2 separate regions of the Homo sapiens genome follow, and region 1 is linked to region 2. The links come from fine-mapping of genetic effects on plasma protein levels. A gene starts in region 2. The other region holds a variant in brackets. All regions are shown on one strand. Distances are from middle to middle.

Region 1 (2,919 bases), 370 kb after region 2:
GATGAATCATACAAGTTACAATCTATGCTGACTCTGGATGCTGATTTTTTCTCCCCCCCGGACAACTTTAAGACCATGTACATCTCATGGTACGCACTTTCATGGACATTTTTGTTAAATGGGAATCTAAAGAACCCCATGAATCTGAAATGTTTTGGGTTAGAGACATGTTGGGTGGGATTGTTCCTATCAAAAAGATGAGGCACTGGAATGAGGAGTAGATCCACGTGCAAAGACCTGCCCAAAGTCAAAAGTCTGAGTTTGCAGTCTTCATTAAGGGAAGAACTGAAACATTTGTGCTCATTTGTGACAAAAATAAAAATTGCAGTTTCAGATATAAGGGACTACAGAATTCATCACATTGCAGATTACACATTCTAGGTTCAATTAGACAAATCCAGGTATGGCTGATGGTTTGAAATCAACAGAAAATAAATTTGCAGGATTCTTGGCTGTATAATATCCCTATGCCACAGTTGTACTCTCCCTGCCTTCCTCTATTACACTTTCTTGGTAGGTAATTTTTATTTCATTGATAGTCCCTAAGTAGTTATCTCATGGTTTGGGTCTATAACAAATATAGTCACCCCTTGGTATCCATGGGGAATTGTGTCCAGGACCTCTCTCAGGTACCAGAACTCAAGGATGCTCAAGTCCCAGCTATAAAATGGGGTAGTATTTGCGTATAACCGATGCACATCCTCCTGTTTACTTTAAATCATCTCTAGACTAAATATAGTACCTAATACAATGTAAATGCTGTGTAAATAGTTGTTATACTGTTTTTTAAAACTTGGTGTTGTTTTTTATTTTTATATATTTTTTTCTTCAAATATTTTTGATTCGTGGTTGGTCGAATCCTTGAACACAGTTGAATCCTTGATCTGGAACTGGTGGATCCAGAGGGCCAACTGTAATACAGGAGATGTTTGCAAGGACATGCACATTTTATCAGCTTGGCTCCAAGTCCTGACATTCCTAACTACGGTTAAAGCTTAGGGAAATATTAATCATTCTCAGGTCAATATACACATTTTGGTCTTTTCTAAAAATGCTCTATGAATGCGGCAATAATTGCGTGGTATATCATCTTCTGAGCTGAGACAGGTCTTCCGTATCTCTCTTTAATGACGTATTGGCTTGGTAATCAGTTGTCTCTTGTTAAGCGTGTGTAATCATTACATTCAGAAAGCCAGACTCAGAAAGGTCTGAGTAGAAACATTAAATCCTCTAGGAATGCCATTTTTACTTTGTCACCAGAATAAAATCATGGCCAGCTGTCAGAATTTTTTTGCTCACTATTAGTGCCTGAAGGCTCTTTCATTATGGGTTAGTTCCATAAACCGTGTAAATTCAGTAATGAAAATGTCCAGTCCAACCTAATAATCAAACGTGTGAAATTCTCTTACTCTTCGTTTTTCCCCTCGTCCAGTTAGGTTCTGCTTCAGTCTAAGAGTCCCTAGTAGGGTGTGTATGTGAACCTTTTCAGGTTCGTGTGCCAACCTTGCACTCTCCTCGTCCTTCAAACAATGTTTCTGACTCCCCTGTGCTTGTAGTTGGCAGGTTTCGAGCTGGGGAGATGA[T/C]GGATCAAAAGTGAGAAAGAAGAAGTGAGAGAAGAAATCATTCTTTGTGACTGGTAATTTTATGATCTCTCATTGATGTTTTCTAGCCTGGCAGGTATTAACAGCTGATGCCCTAGTGCTTTTGTGTGCTTAAGACAATGTCTCTCCCCTCTATTTCTCCATGTGATGGTAATGTTTTGGCCTCTTTCTGCTGAGATCTTTTGGTGGGTTCCTTTTCTCCCATATCATCTATTCTAGCCCATAGAAACCTTCCCTCTCTTTTCTACTTTTGGTGGAAGTACAGCCTACACCTAATGCAGCTGCCTCTCTTTACTCTGCCACTAGACAGCCAACTTCTGCTACAAGAATGGGCTGCCTTCCATTTGCGTAGGCATAGGCCAACTACCAGCCCTTTTAGTCCTTCCAGCTCCAAGGATCCTTCAACACTTCTCTCACCTAGGACCAATGAATGAGGGAATGCCGTAGCAGTTCAATCAGCTTTCTTCAAACAAGTTCCCTGCTTTGTTCTCTTCAACTTCAATCCTTTTATTCAATTAAGGTGGATGTCAAACTGTGGGACTGAAAACAAGGTTTCAGTCATCTGCTTTTCATGTCTAGCACCTCACTGAAAGTGAGGGGTGTATGCCATCTATTGTCCCTTGTTCTTGGCTGAAATGGAAACAGAAAGAGTACTATTTTAGCACCCTTTTCCATGTACTTGGAAGTGGTGCAGAGAAGACAGAAAACTAGTTTCCAAATTCAAGATACTGCAATAGACCTTGAATGGAACGCAAAGTTATATGAGATATTTTCCCAATCTTTCAGGGACTTGGAATCTCAAACTGGTAGAAAACATGTTCACAAAACACATTCACAGCAAAACAGGTTTTGAAATAAAAGAAGTGTACAATCCCACAGACTTTCAAATAGGGGAAAATTCTTTTTTGATTGAGAGGATTCAACAGTATTTAATGAAAGAGGTAATATGTGATATGAGTTTTCATTCAATTAAAATAAATTCTTTAAAATATGGATGAGATGAGATAATGACTGAGAATGCTTTAAAATAATTCAGTGAGTGGGAGAAAGAGGGTCATATTATATTTGAAGTGAAGTTTTCTGAGTGAGTAATCATTGAAGCTGTTTGATGGGAACGGAGTGTTATACTATATTTTCTGTATATTTGTATTCACTTAAAATTCTGTAATACATAAATACAAAAATATAGTAACACAATAAAAATAACTTTGTCACTGTCTACTCTTTCACAAACACTGTTCTAGATGCTAGGGACACAGTGATGGACAAAATAGACATAAGTCCATCTCTCATGTAGACTAGGATATAGAAGAGAAGA
Region 2 (2,919 bases):
TCTGGATTTGGAAGCCTCAGTTTGATTTCTGGCTTTGTCACTTACCTTAGGCATTCAGTAAGTCACTTCACCTCTGTGTTCCTGTTTCCTCATCTGTAAAACAATGATAATAGTAGTAACTACTTTATAAGGTTGTTATAAAGATTACATGAGTGAATTCATTTCCATAAAATACTTAGAATATTATCTGGCCCATAAGCACTATATACATTCTCATGGTTTTTCTTGTTTCTTTTCATAGATATAGGTGGCTTCCAGACAATCTTTCCATACTTGGTGGTTAGAGCAGAAGAGATTCATGAAGAGCACTGCCCTTTGAAACAAAATCTCATATTCAGAAAACTGATGCCAAACACCAAGTAGCATGATTTCACTCTGAAGCAGTGTTTCAGCCATTGCCCTGGAATGGTTTTAAAGCAAGTGATATACTGCTGAAAGTGCTGCCTTTGATATTAAATGTTCATTAAAAATCTTCACTAAGACATAAAGTTTTTCACTACTATCTCTTGGTAAGGGTTCAAATTTGAGATGAAATTCCTTAAAGTGGTTAAAGCATTCATTGTCCCCTCTGCCTGATGCTTTTAACTAGTTTATTTTACAGAAGGAGTACTCTCTTCAAGTGGCTGTAGATTGAGACACTCTTACAGGCTTAGTTGTTGAGTCAACCACATTTAAAAAATGCACCTGCCCTTTGGTTTATGGTGCGTAATGCATTCCTCTCATAAACTGTAAATTGACAAAATTCCTTTGCCATTTTAAAATTGCTTAAAGTATTTATTTTTCTATATTCCTTGTAAGGAACTCCCCTGAGCACTCTTAACTTAATTGCTCTCTGAAAAATATTTTAAAGAAATTCCAGAAGTGGTAAAGCTCAGAGGAGCCCCACAAATACAAAGTGCTGAAGTAAAATATGATGCTAAATGGTGATAAGAGACTTAAAACTAGATTTCATTGTGATAAGAATGTGATAAAGTTTGATTGTAATTCTTATACCTCCTTTCAGAAAATCATGTTATAGAAAAATGTTCCTAAGCAGTAAAACAAAGCCATTTTAAAAAATAACTTCTCATGTGCACTCTTTAACAACCTAAGTGTTATGAAGTCTCTCAATTGAGATCTTTAACCGTAAATAGTTTTTGCCTTTTGTATTATGTCCAGATCCTATTTAATGCAATTAGAATACAAATTCCTATGTACTGAGGACCTTGATTACATAGATGAGATATTTCTTAGTTCCAGTTGGTGTTTCTCATCTCTTGTCTTCTCTGACCCTATTTATACATTCTCTGTTTTTATCAGATGATTCTTCCCCAGAACGGACTGGGAGAGCGAGGTCCGGGTTTCCTTCTATTTATTTGCATCGATGTCGCTCCGAGTCTTCAGCACTGGGCCGCGTATGACAGCATCTTAGTGGGTGCGGAGCGGGACAGCGCGCCGGGGGCGTGGCAGGGGCGTGGCCTGTCCGCGGGGCGGGGAGTGCGGGGCGGGGCTTCCGCGGAGCGCAGCGAGCGGGCACATCCCAGGTTAGCTGCTGCGAGCCGAGCCGGGCGGCGGAGGCGGCGGCGGCGGCGGCAGTGGCGGCAGTGGCGGCAGTGGCGGCAGCGGCAGCAGTTGCAGCAGTGGTGGCCAGAGCGGATGCTTGCGGGCTCCCTGCGGCTCCACTAGTTTTCTTCGCCCCGCCCAGCCGCCCACTCTTCTCGGCTAGGGAAGAAGACCAGAGGGTGCTCAGCTGGAAAACTCTGGTGTCTCAGCTTAGGGCCTCCTCCGGGAAGAGCTAACTGCTCCCAGGTGAAGCCGGTGCCCGCGGGCGGTCCGTACACCCCGCAGCCGGCTCGCACCGCTCGAGAGCCTCGGCCGCTGTGTCTTCCACGTCTGCAGCTCAGCCAGGGCGCGCAGGGCGAGTGGGGTCCACTGGCGGGTAAAGGGGACCAGGACGGCGAGGATGGACGCACAGACCTGGCCCGTGGGCTTTCGCTGCCTCCTCCTTCTGGCCCTGGTTGGGTCCGCCCGCAGCGAGGGCGTGCAGACCTGCGAAGAAGTTCGGAAACTTTTCCAGTGGCGGCTGCTGGGAGCTGTCAGGGGGCTGCCGGATTCGCCGCGGGCAGGTAAGGGGCAATGAGGGGGTCTCTGGACTGGCGGCGTCCGAGCCCGGCCTTCGCTCCCCCAGGCTCCCTTGGTGGCACTCGTGGGAAGATGACCTTTCGGGCCCTGCAGCCGCGCAGGGTGAATCCCGGGGAGGCTTCCGGGGATGCTTGGTGCGGGTAGCCTGAGTGCAGCGCAGCGCAGCTCTGGGGACCCCTAACCAAGCCTGCGACGAATCCCCGTTCTGGGCATCTGCTTCCCGCCCGGCTCCCTTCGTCTTGGAGGATGAGTTGGAAGGAACCAGGAAAGCAGACATCAGGGCGTGGGGGACACGCAGTCTAACTCCGTTTCTCTTCCGAGTAGGAATTTCCCCAGTGCCCCACCGGGGATTTCGGTTTACTGCTTTCTCATAAGGTGGAGGGAATTGAATTGATCGCCCCAAGTTTGGTACTAAAAATCACAAACCTGCGATATACCCCTTTGCTGGAGAATGGGGCACAGACAAGGGCAGCCGGTCTCCTCTGTAATTAGGACTTGGACCCTGTGCACCCAGAGACGTGACCCTTAGCTGCCCTTCTGTGCCCTCGTATCAAGCCCTGCTTGGAGGAAACCCAACCACCCAGTGTGTCTCCCAGCACCAAGGTAGTTTTTAGCCTGAAAAGTGTTAGGGCAACAGGCGATCAAACCGAACGTACTGGGGAGTCACTTGACATGGATGAGATGTACCAGCGTTCCAAAGGGAAAGATACAGTTTGTGTGGCCAGCGTGGATCTTGCTTCCTGTGAGCGCCTTTTGCCTGTGCTTTCGAACCCTGCTCCCCGTTTCCACCGCACCAAT

Direction of the effects. Alleles are on the strand shown, and positions count from the first base shown. The strength of an association depends on the size of the effect and on how common the allele is.
For the plasma level of the protein whose gene starts at base 1,517 in region 2, allele C in region 1 goes with a lower level than allele T (strong association).

Evidence for each region. PIP is the posterior inclusion probability: the model's chance that the variant is causal. The UK Biobank Pharma Proteomics Project read protein levels with antibody pairs (Olink). The fine-mapping took linkage between variants from a reference panel, not from the people measured, so its PIPs are less certain.
Region 1: its variant is fine-mapped to the plasma level of the GPC5 protein (UK Biobank, PIP above 0.99).

The regions. Positions count from the first base shown.
Region 1 is chr13:91,763,221-91,766,139 of GRCh38, forward strand. All of the region lies in intron 5 of GPC5 (glypican 5), which reads left to right. Among named protein-coding and RNA genes, the nearest start is that of GPC5, 370 kb to the left of the region's middle. The variant T/C (reference allele first, on the strand shown) is at 1,584.
Region 2 is chr13:91,397,105-91,400,023 of GRCh38, forward strand. GPC5 (glypican 5) reads left to right here and starts at 1,517. Exons shown (of 8, transcript NM_004466.6): 1 at 1,517-2,105. The coding sequence starts at 1,943. LOC124903189 (a long non-coding RNA gene) reads left to right here. Exons shown (of 2, transcript XR_007063831.1): 1 at 1-57; 2 at 242-484. RefSeq lists silencers at 1,331-1,625, 1,332-1,601.